3 linked regions of the Homo sapiens genome follow. The protein of the gene in region 2 interacts with the protein of the main gene of each other region in a pairwise test. Each region holds a gene or a part of one and is shown on either strand. Other genes may lie near its edges. The genes, in order: HUNK, ZBTB44 and ETS2.

The links.
Region 1: the proteins of ZBTB44 (region 2) and HUNK interact in a two-hybrid assay, tested with the Homo sapiens proteins (one large-scale study listed by BioGRID and IntAct).
Region 3: the proteins of ZBTB44 (region 2) and ETS2 interact in a two-hybrid assay, tested with the Homo sapiens proteins (one large-scale study listed by BioGRID and IntAct).

What each region holds. Positions count from the first base shown.
Region 1 is NC_000021.9:31,921,517-31,925,167, reverse strand, and holds part of HUNK (hormonally up-regulated neu tumor-associated kinase), read right to left. Parts: intron 701-3,651; coding exon 408-700; intron 1-407.
Region 2 is NC_000011.10:130,304,824-130,308,474, forward strand, and holds part of ZBTB44 (zinc finger and BTB domain-containing protein 44), read right to left. Parts: intron 1-3,651. UniProt on the Homo sapiens protein: May be involved in transcriptional regulation.
Region 3 is NC_000021.9:38,819,421-38,823,071, forward strand, and holds part of ETS2 (protein C-ets-2), read left to right. Parts: intron 1-82; coding exon 83-346; intron 347-2,165; coding exon 2,166-2,284; intron 2,285-3,253; coding exon 3,254-3,469; 3' UTR 3,470-3,651. UniProt on the Homo sapiens protein: Transcription factor activating transcription. Binds specifically the DNA GGAA/T core motif (Ets-binding site or EBS) in gene promoters and stimulates transcription.

The sequences.
Region 1 (3,651 bases), on a different chromosome or scaffold from region 2:
GCATTAACCCAATTCACAAAACAATTCCATGGAATAAAAATACAGAAAAATTCCCAGCCTGGCCAACATGGTGAAACCCCGTCTCTACTAAAAATACAACAAAGTTAGCCAGGCATTGTGGCAGGTGCCTGTAATCCCAGCTACTTGGGTGGCTGAGGCAGGAAAATCGCTTGAACCCACAAGGCGGAGGTTGCAGTGAGCCATGACTGCGCCATTGCACTCCAGCCTGGGCAACAAGAACAAAACTCCGTCTCAAAAAAATAAACAAATAAATAAAATTAAAATATAGACAAATTGTAAAACAGGCTGCAATTGCTCAGCCTTTCTCAGAGGCTCAGAGGGTGCCACAGCCCAGTGCCACCCACGGAGCACACAGTCAGCGATCACCAGCGTGGCCTGGCCCTTACCTGTGGACCACCCCGGCCCGGTGCAGGTGCTCTACGGCAGAGATGAGCTGTCGGATGTATCTGCGGGCTTCGGACTCCTCCAGCCGCTTCTTCTCATAGATCTTGTGCATCAGGTTGCCCCCAGGGCACAGCTCCATGACCAGGTAGTAGCTGTTTTCCGTTTCTAAAATATCAAGGAGCTGAGTGATATTGGGGTGGCGGATCATCTGCTGGATCTGACCCTCTCGCCGCAGGTTTTTGGTGACATAGGTGTCCTTTTTGGCTCTCTTCTTATCAATGACTTTTATGGCCACCTAAGGAGAAAACAAGAACATGCCTGTTATCAGACATTACAGACAATAGCGATGCCTTGGCTACTCACAGGAACCCAAGAAAAATGCTAGCTATGTCTCTGCAGAGGAGAAACACCTTACCTAAAACAGCATCAACAGAAAATATATATATACACATTTATATTTATGCATATACCACACAAACACACACACACACACACATATAGGTACAACATTAGGAAAAATCAAAAGGTCCAATTATTAAGGAAGACAATGGAATTTACCTAAGAAAACCTGAATGGCTGTCTGGAAGGCACAGTGCAGGATTAATGTCAAATTTATTTTTCTACAGGATGGGAAGATGAAATAACAATTTCTCTTCCAGCAAAGGGCTTGTCCCAGTCCCCCTCAGGACTCACCATCATCTCCCTCCAGGTCTGAGGACCCCCAGCCACTTCAGAAACAGCTAAATCTTCCCCCAATCTTAGTTCCAAGGCATGGTTGGGGGACACTGCCCAAAGATGCAGCACCCCTAGCCTTGCCCGCCCCCGCTCCGCCCTGCCCTGTGCACACCCTCAAGCCTCAGGGTCTACCTCCTTCCCTTGATGAATTGCCTCCTAGGGAAACTTGGCCCCCACTGTCAGGACCCAACCTTTGTTGTTACTCAGGATCACATTTCTACTACCCTCAGGAAGCTCCTCCTGGGCCATTGCCCCTACAATCAACTTGTCATAAGAGGTACGGTGGGAGGGAGGGAAGAACAGAAGGAAGGATGGAGGAACAGAGGGAAGGGAAGATTGTCTATTCCACCCAAATCCGCATCTGTCCCCAGTCCTCTTTCCTTTAGGGGAAGTCACCTCTCCATTGTATTCACCCTTTTCCTTCCCTTCCCTCCCTCCCTCCCTCCCTCCCTCGCTTCCTTCCTTCCTTCCTTCTTTCCTTCCTTCCTTCCTCCCTCCCTTCCTCCCTCCTTCCCTCTCTCCCTCCCCTTCCTCTTTCCTTCCTTCCTTTCTTTCTTCTTCTATCTCTCTCTTTTTCTCTTTCTTTCCTTCTTGACAGAGTCTCTCTGTTGCCCAGGCTGGAGTACATGGTGCAATCATGGCTCACTGAAGCCTCAAACTCCTGGGCTTAAGTGATCCTCCCACCTCAGCCTCCCAGGAGCTGGGACTATAAGCACACACCACCACGGCTGGCTAATTTTTTTCTTTTTGTAGAGACCGATCTCCCCATGTGGCCCAGGCTGGTCTTGAACTCCTGGCTTCCAGTGATTCTCCTTGTCAGCCTCCCAAAGCACCGGCGTCAAAGGCGTGAGTCACCACGCCGGCTGCCCTGTTCCTTCTTTTTTCTTCACTCCCCTCTCTAATGTGATCAGCCACTGACGTCAACACATGATGTCAATGTCTTCTTCCAGCTGTCTCGCCACCTGTCCTTCCTCTCTGTTCCCCTACACCACCCGCCTGGTTCATTCCAACCACTGCCCCAGTGCCCAGATGCCCTGTCATGAACTGAGACATGAGCATCCCAGGAACACCTTCATACACAGCTATGGAGCCTCCGGGTGCAGGATGAAGTCAGTGGACCTTCCATTTCTTGTTATTTCTCTTTTTTGTAATTACATTTTGTACCTGTTTCACAACGCACTCAATATGCATTATATGCAATATGCCATACACAGAGGTACAAGTACAGAAATAAATAATAAGTAAATAAATACAGATGAATACATGTTTTCAGTGAGGGGCTCAAATATTATTTTGTGGACATAGTTCATGATAAAGAAAAAAACAGAAGTCTGAGATCCAATGTACAGCATGGTGACCAGGCTTAACAATAATGTATTGCACACTTGAAAACTGCTAAGAGGCCGGGCGTGGTGGCTCGTGCCTGTAATCCCAACACTTTGGGAGGCCGAGGAGGGTGAATTACTTGAGGTCAGGAGTTCAAGACCAGCCCGGCCAACATGGTGAAACCCTGTCTCTACTAAAAACACAAAAATTAGATGGGCGTGGTGGTGGATGCCTGGAATCCCAGCTACTCGGGAGGCTTAGGCAGGAGAATCGCTTGAACCCAGGAGGTAGAAGTTGCAGTGAGCCAAGATTGTGCCATTGCACTCCAGACTGGGCAACAAGAACAAAACTCCGTCTCAAAAAAAAAGAAAGAAAACTGCTAAGAGGCTGGGCACGGTGGCTTGTGCCTGTAATCCCAGCACTTTGGGAGGCCAAGGCGGGTGGATCACTTGAGGTCAGGGGTTCGAGACCAGTCTGGCCAACATGGCGAAACCCTGTCTCTACTAAAAATATAAAAATTAGCTGGGTGTGGTGGTGGACGCCTGGAATCCCAGCTACTCAGGAGGCTGAGGCAGGAGAATCGCTTGAACCTGGGAGGTAGAGGTTGCAGTGAGCAGAGATTGTGCCATTGCACTCCAGCCTGGGCAACAAGAACAAAACTCCATCTCAAAAAAAAAGAAAGAAAATTGCTGAGAGATTTTTTAATGTTCTCAAGACACACACAAAACTGATAACCCTGTCAGGTAATGGACATGTCCATGAGCTTGACCATGGTAACCATTTCACAACATGCTCACTTATCATAACCTGCATACTATAAGCACACGCGGTTATCTGTCAGTTAAACCTCAATAAAGCTGAAGAAAACCTTAAAAAACAAAAAGAAAACAAAAAAGGGAAAAAGTCCAAACTAAAGGCAAACTTTAAATTAAACAAAATAGTGAACGAATCAATAAAAGTCTGGCCACCCCCAGGGTGAACTAAGGCATGGATGTCACCTCTTCTTGAGGCTCCTCCTGGCCTCTTGAATTCATTCTACACTCTGCCTCCAAATCAGTGGGTCTAGAACTCTGATTTCTTGCAGAAGCTCTTGAGGTCTCACTGCTGCCTATGGGAGCACCCAAGCATCTTCTCCATCAGCCCCACCACCACCCGGTCCCAACTCCTCCCAGCTCTCCCTCCTGG
Region 2 (3,651 bases):
TGCTGATGATACAAACTTATACCTAGAAAACCCTCAAGATTCATTTGAAAAGCTCCTAGATCTGATAAATGAATTCAGTGAAGTTTCAGGATACAAAATTAATGTACACAAATCAGTAGCACTGCTATACACCAATGATGACCAAGCCGAGAATCAAATCAAGAACGCAATCCCTTTTACAACAGCTGCCAAAGAAAAATTAAAATACTTAGGAATATACCTAACCAAGGAGGTGAAAGATCTCTACAAGGAAGACTACAAAACACTGTTCAAACAAATCATCGATGACACAAACAAATGGAAACACATCCCATGCTCATGGATGGGTAGAATCAATATGGTGACAATGACCTTACTGCCAAATGCAATCTACAGATTTAATGCAATTCACATCAAAATACCATCATCATTCTATAGAACTAGAAAACACAATTCTAAAATTCATATGGAACCAAAAAAGAGCCCACATAGTCAAAGCAAGACTAAGCAAAAATAACAAATCTGGAGGAACCACATTACCTGACTTCAAACTACACTACAAGGCTATAGTCACCAAAACAGCATGGTACTGGTATAAAAACAGGCATGTAGACCGATGGAACAGAATAGAGAACCCCAAAATAAAGCCAAATACTTACAGCCAACTGGTCTTTGACAAAGCAAACAAAAACATAAAGTGGAGAAAGGACACCCTATTCAACAAACAGTGCTGGGATAATTGGCAAGCCACATGTAGAAGAATGAAACTGGATCTTTATCTTTCATCTTACACAAAAATCAACACAAGGTGGATCAAAGACTTAAATCTTAAGGCCTGAAACCATAAAAATTCTGGAAGATAACATCAGAAAAACTCTTCTAGACATTAGCTTAGGCAAAGAATTCATGACCAAAAAACCAAAAGCGAATGCAACAAAAATAAATGGGACCTAATTAAACTAAAAAGCTTCTACATAGCAAAAGAAATAATCAGCAGAGTAAAGAGACAACCCAAAGTGGTAGAAAATTTTTGCAAAGTATGCATCCAACAAAGGACTAATATCCAGAATCTACAAGGAATACAAACAAACCAGCAAAAACAAACGAACAAACAAAAACCACCAATCCTGTCAAAAAATGGGTTAAAAAAAACATAGACAATTCTCAAATGATATAAAAACAGCCAACAAACACATGAAAAAATGTTTAACATCCCTAATTATCAGGGAAATGCAAATTAAAACCACAATTAGATACTACCTTACTCCTGTAAGAATGGCTATAATTTAAAAATTAAAAATAATAAATATTGGCATGACTGTGGTGAAAAGGGAACACTTTTACACTGCTGGTGGAAATGTAAACTAGTACAACCACTATGAAAAACAGTATGGAGATTCCTTTAAGAACTAAAAGTAGGCTGGGCACGATGGCTCACACTTGTAATCCCAGCACTTTGGGAAGCTGAGGTGGGCGGATCACCTGAGGTCGGGAGTTCGAGACCAGCCTGACCAACATGGAGAAAACCCACCTCTCCTAAGAATACAAAATTAGCTGGGCGTGGTGGTGCATGCCTGTAATCCCAGCTACTTGGGAGGCTGAGGCAGGAGAATGGCTTGAACCCAGGAGGCAGAGGTTGCAGTGAGCCGAGATTGCGCCACTGCACTCCAACCTGGGCAACAAGAGCTAAACTCCACTCAAAAAAAAAAAAGAACTAAAAGTAGAACTACCATTTGATCCAGCAATCCCACTACTGGGTATCTACCCAAAAGAAAAGAAGTCATTATGTGAAAAAGACACATGTACACACACTTACAGCAGCACAATTCACAATTGCAAAAATATAGAACCAACCTAAACGCCCATCAAACAACGAGCAGATAAAGAAAACGTGGTATATTTACACCATGAAAACTGAATGAAATACTGGCTTTTGCAGCAACTTGGATGGAGTTGTAAGCCATTATTCTAAGTGAAGTAACTCAGGAATGGAAAACCAAATATCGTATGTTCTCACTTATAAGTGGGAGCTAAGCTACAAGGACGCAAAAGCATATGAAGGATATAACGGACTTTGGGGACTTGGAGGGAAGGGTGCAAGTGGGGTGAGGGATAAAAGACTACACATTGGGTACAGCGTACACTGCTCAGGTGACGGGTGCACCAAAATGTCAGAAATCACCACTAAAGAACTTATCCATATAGCCAAAAACCACCTGCACCCCCAAAACTATCAACATTCAAAAAAAAAAAAAATCAAAGAACAAGCAAAAAAAAAAAAAATTATAGTTGAATACCTGAATAGCCATACCTAAAGCCCACCATTAACATTCTACTGTAGCCCGGGTGTGGTGGCTAACGCTTGTAATCCCAGCACTTTGGGAGGCCAAGGTGGGCAGATCACAAGGTAAGGAGACCAAGACCATCCTGGCTAACACGGTGAAACCCCGTCTCTACTAAAAATACAAAAAAATTAGCCAGGCATGGTGGCAGGCACCTGTAGTCCCAGCTGCTTGGGAGGCTGAGGCAGGAGAATGGCGTGAACCCAGGGGATGAAGCTTGCAGTGAGCTGAGATCGTGCCACTGCACTCCAGCCTGGGCAACACAGCAAGACTCTGTCTCAAAAAAAAAAAAAAAAGTCTACTGTTATTGTTTTATCACATACCTATCCATCCATCAATCCATCTTGATTTTTACTCTACTTTTAAAATGCCTTTTAAAGTAGTATCTAAATGCAGTTTCTGAAGCAAGGGGTCAGAAACTCCCGCACCTATGAGAAAGGAAAATGATATACAATCATGCGTGGCATGTGTCCCTCAATGATAGACCACAAATACCACAACCGTCCCATATTATAATACCATATTATTTTTGAGACAAGAGTCTCATTCTGTCGCTCAGGCTGGAGGGCAGTGGTGCAATCTGGGCTCACTGCTGGAGGAATCACATTACCTGACTTCAAACTATACTACAAGGCTATAGTTACCAAAACAGCATGGTACTGGTGTAACCTTCCAGGTTCAAGCAATTCTCCTGTCTCAGCCTCCCAAGTAGCTGTGACTACAGGTGCATGCCACCACACTTGGCTAATTTTTGTATTTTTAGTAGAGACAGGGTTTCACTATATTGGTCAGGCTGGTCTCGAGCTCCTGACCTTAGGTGAGCCACCCGCCTCCGCCTCCCAAAGTACTGGGATTACAGGCATGAGCCACCGTGCGCAACCCTGTAATACCATATTTTTACTGCACCTTTTCTAGGTTTAGATATGCTTAGATATACATATACTTTCCACTGCATTACAAAAGCCTACAGCATTCAGTACAGTAACATGCTGTACAGATACGTGGCCTAGGAGCAACAGGCTATACCATATAACCTAGATGTAGAGTAGGCCATACCATCAAGTTTTGTCTAAGTACACTTTATGATGTTCATACAATGACACAATCGCCTAACGACGCATTTCTCAGAACATATCCCCGTTGCAATCTCTGAGGTTGTTACAGCATCAGTCATGTAGTTCCGTATTCATGGTGACTGAAAATTTATTCAATTTTTATGACTTGTTACATTTAGTTGTGAGGTGGAGCAAAGCAGCTAAGTGCTAACTCTAAACAGCCTTGAATTTGAAACCTGGGTCGGCCACTTATTGTGATACTCTAGGCAAGTCAT
Region 3 (3,651 bases), on a different chromosome or scaffold from region 2:
AGTGGTTGGTGATGCTATGGTCGTGCCCAAGACCAACTGTGTCCTGGAGGAATCAAAGTATGTGTTTGGTTGTCTTTGCCAGGGACTCCCAAAGACCACGACTCCCCTGAGAACGGTGCGGACAGCTTCGAGAGCTCAGACTCCCTCCTCCAGTCCTGGAACAGCCAGTCGTCCTTGCTGGATGTGCAACGGGTTCCTTCCTTCGAGAGCTTCGAAGATGACTGCAGCCAGTCTCTCTGCCTCAATAAGCCAACCATGTCTTTCAAGGATTACATCCAAGAGAGGAGTGACCCAGTGGAGCAAGGCAAACCAGTTATACCTGCAGCTGTGCTGGCCGGCTTCACAGGTGTGTGTGGAACTCCGAGAGCCTGGCCGCCCAGTCTCCTGGGTCCTGTCCCTTGCTTCCTTTCGAGCCACAGTACCACATTCACCGAGGGTGTTTCTAAGCTAGGTACACCAGTGCTCTACACTCCATGTTTTATGCGTGGCTTGCTGTATCTCTGAATTCGACAAAAGCCACACTTGGAGGAATTTTCATGTACACAGAGCTCCATGGAATGAGTGAAAATTGACAGGCCACTCCCTCCACCTGGGACGTTCTGAGGAATAGTTGGAGCAGGGGACATGGCCTGTGCAGTCTTCAGCCCTGACTCACCCACTCCAAGAATCTCAAAGAATGTAAACTGGCTTAGGGAGGGGCAGCAGAGCCAGTCTCAAATAATATGGGCACTGTTTACCTTTTCTTGCTTCTAAAATCTATCTGCTCTTATTTTTGAGGTTTGGGTGAGAGCTATTCTAGGCAGTGGACAAATATAAAGCTGTTTTTAGAAACAGGTATTTCCAGTACTTTAGCGAAAATACTGGGGCTTTGTTTTCACTGCTTCGTGTATCCTTAAATGCGTTTTTGTTTTTGTTTTTTTAACCATATGGAGCCACTGTGGATTGAAATTACCTAACTTAAAAAAATCTGATAAGTTTAAAATAAGGATACTGAGGCATTCATTCTTTTTCTGTCATCTAAGAACAATCAGCCACGTAAACGTATTAAAATACACGGAAAGAGTGTGTGAAAGCCATTATCGGTTTCATTATTGGGAGTTTAGGGCCTGAGAAGAATAAACAGCCATAACGTTAGTGTGGTTCATTTTAATAGTAACATAAGTTTCTGTTTATTGACTGCCAACTCTGTAGTTAAGTAGGCATACAGTCTGTAGGACAGCCTGGCATGGGGGTGGTATGAGGCCATTTTACAGATGGGGAAATTGGCTCACAGGCAGACAGCTATCGGTGCTCACACAGCTCTGGTTCTAGAATGCCTGTCCCGTGCTTTACAGCAAAGCTTTATTGATAACGGCCATTGCGTTTCTGAGGAAGAGCTATTTGGTAGAAAGAGGTTGGGCTTAGGGTCGGAAGATCTAGGCTCTTCTCCTGTTTGCTGTGATGGGCGTGTGATCCAGGACAAGGCACCTGGCCTCTGAGCCGCATCTTATCCCTCCTCTTTAGAACAGAACCACACTGACACCTGCTTTGCAAGGTGGTAGTTCTAAATGTCAATCGAGGACAGGTGGACGAGAAGCTCTTGGCAAAGCATGCTTCACCAGACAGAGGCTGTGAGGCAACGGGTGTGACCCCGCGTGGCTATTGAGTAAACCGGGCTCACATTAAGCAATTTACACATGGTCATTTGGCAGGAAGGTGGCATGGGATCCCACGTATGACACGCCTCATTCTGTGATGAAACACCCCCTCAGCCACCCCCATCTCTGCCCCACTGGGTGTTTCTAGAAAAAAACCTTGAAGGTTTTTACATAAGGAACAATTAAACCAGATGGGGAATTTTAATGCCAAGAGTTGGTGGCCCTAAACTTTCTTCCAGAAAGAACAAACCTAGCAATCAAGGGGAAGAGTGTCTCGCCTAGTGACCTTATTTTCTAGGAGTAGGCAGTGTGGAGCAGGAACTCACATTTGGTGCCCCGCCCCATCCCGTTAAAGCACTTAGTACTGTCACCAACACCTTGAGTGCCACCCTGAGTGTAACATCGGAACCCCATTCAGAGAGTTGGGTCTGCATTCCTAAATCAGCATGTACAATTAGGATGGTTAAAGACTTGCTGTATTTTACATCTGTGAAAGGGTATGATCCGTCTCCCTCCCTCTCCCCGCAGGAAGTGGACCTATTCAGCTGTGGCAGTTTCTCCTGGAGCTGCTATCAGACAAATCCTGCCAGTCATTCATCAGCTGGACTGGAGACGGATGGGAGTTTAAGCTCGCCGACCCCGATGAGGTATGGCCAGAGCCCTGGGAAATCTCTGGGCTTGAAAACCTGATTTCCTGCTTGCATTCAAAAACTCAGTTCTTTGGGCACAAAAAAGGGTTCACCAGTACTGCTGAGAATCTTTCCACGTGAGGCATCCTTGGCTGTTGGGAAAATGGAAGTGGAGTCATTGCTTTGTTGATAAACGTGTACAGTGTTTTCTGGGTATGCTTCATACAAGGGCGTTGCACAGATTTCACTGTCTTGATCAGTTGTCTGATCAAGAGGCCCAAGCTGCAAACTGAGGTTCTCTGCTGACCATCTGAAAATGCCTTAGGAAGGCTGCCCTTGTCCATCGGGGGAACAAGCCTCATGTGGCCCCGAGCCAGCCTTCTGTCCACTCCTTAGCTGAGCCCAGCAGTGTTGACCCCAGCCCTGCAGAGTTAGAACCAGGAGCCCTGTCTAAAGGAGAAGGCCAAGGGCAGGTGGGATACCAACCCCGCCAGAAAAGCGTTAGAGAGAAGCCCTTGGTCTCTGGCACTGGGGAGCGTAATCTGTCACCATTCCCACCCCGCCTCCAGTTCCCTTGGGAGACAAGCATTGAGGAATGAGTATATCACACAGCTCAGAATCCCACTCGGCACCTGTTAACTTCAGTAGTTGGAATATCCAGCCTGGAGGGTGGGTGACACCACCTTTCCCTGGTCTCAGGACCCTCCTGGCTCTGAACCCTTGGCTCCCAGGAGGTTTCACTGAGCTGGGGCCAGGGAGCAGGGACCTCATTCCCCAGTGGTTCTGCCCCTTGGGGACACAGTGCCCCTACCATAGGTACTCAAAGGTACTCAGAGGTACTCAAAAGGTCCTCCTGCGGACCTTGTGTAGGTGTCAAGTTCTCTCTAGAGTGAACATGCCTCAGAATCATAATCAGGGAGGAATGTCATTCACTTTTTCTTCATTGACAAATTGAGTTTAACTCTTTTCCATCCATGTTCACCAAAGGTGGCCCGCCGGTGGGGAAAGAGGAAAAATAAGCCCAAGATGAACTACGAGAAGCTGAGCCGGGGCTTACGCTACTATTACGACAAGAACATCATCCACAAGACGTCGGGGAAGCGCTACGTGTACCGCTTCGTGTGCGACCTCCAGAACTTGCTGGGGTTCACGCCCGAGGAACTGCACGCCATCCTGGGCGTCCAGCCCGACACGGAGGACTGAGGTCGCCGGGACCACCCTGAGCCGGCCCCAGGCTCGTGGACTGAGTGGGAAGCCCATCCTGACCAGCTGCTCCGAGGACCCAGGAAAGGCAGGATTGAAAATGTCCAGGAAAGTGGCCAAGAAGCAGTGGCCTTATTGCATCCCAAACCACGCCTCTTGACCAGGCTGCCTCCCTTGTGGCA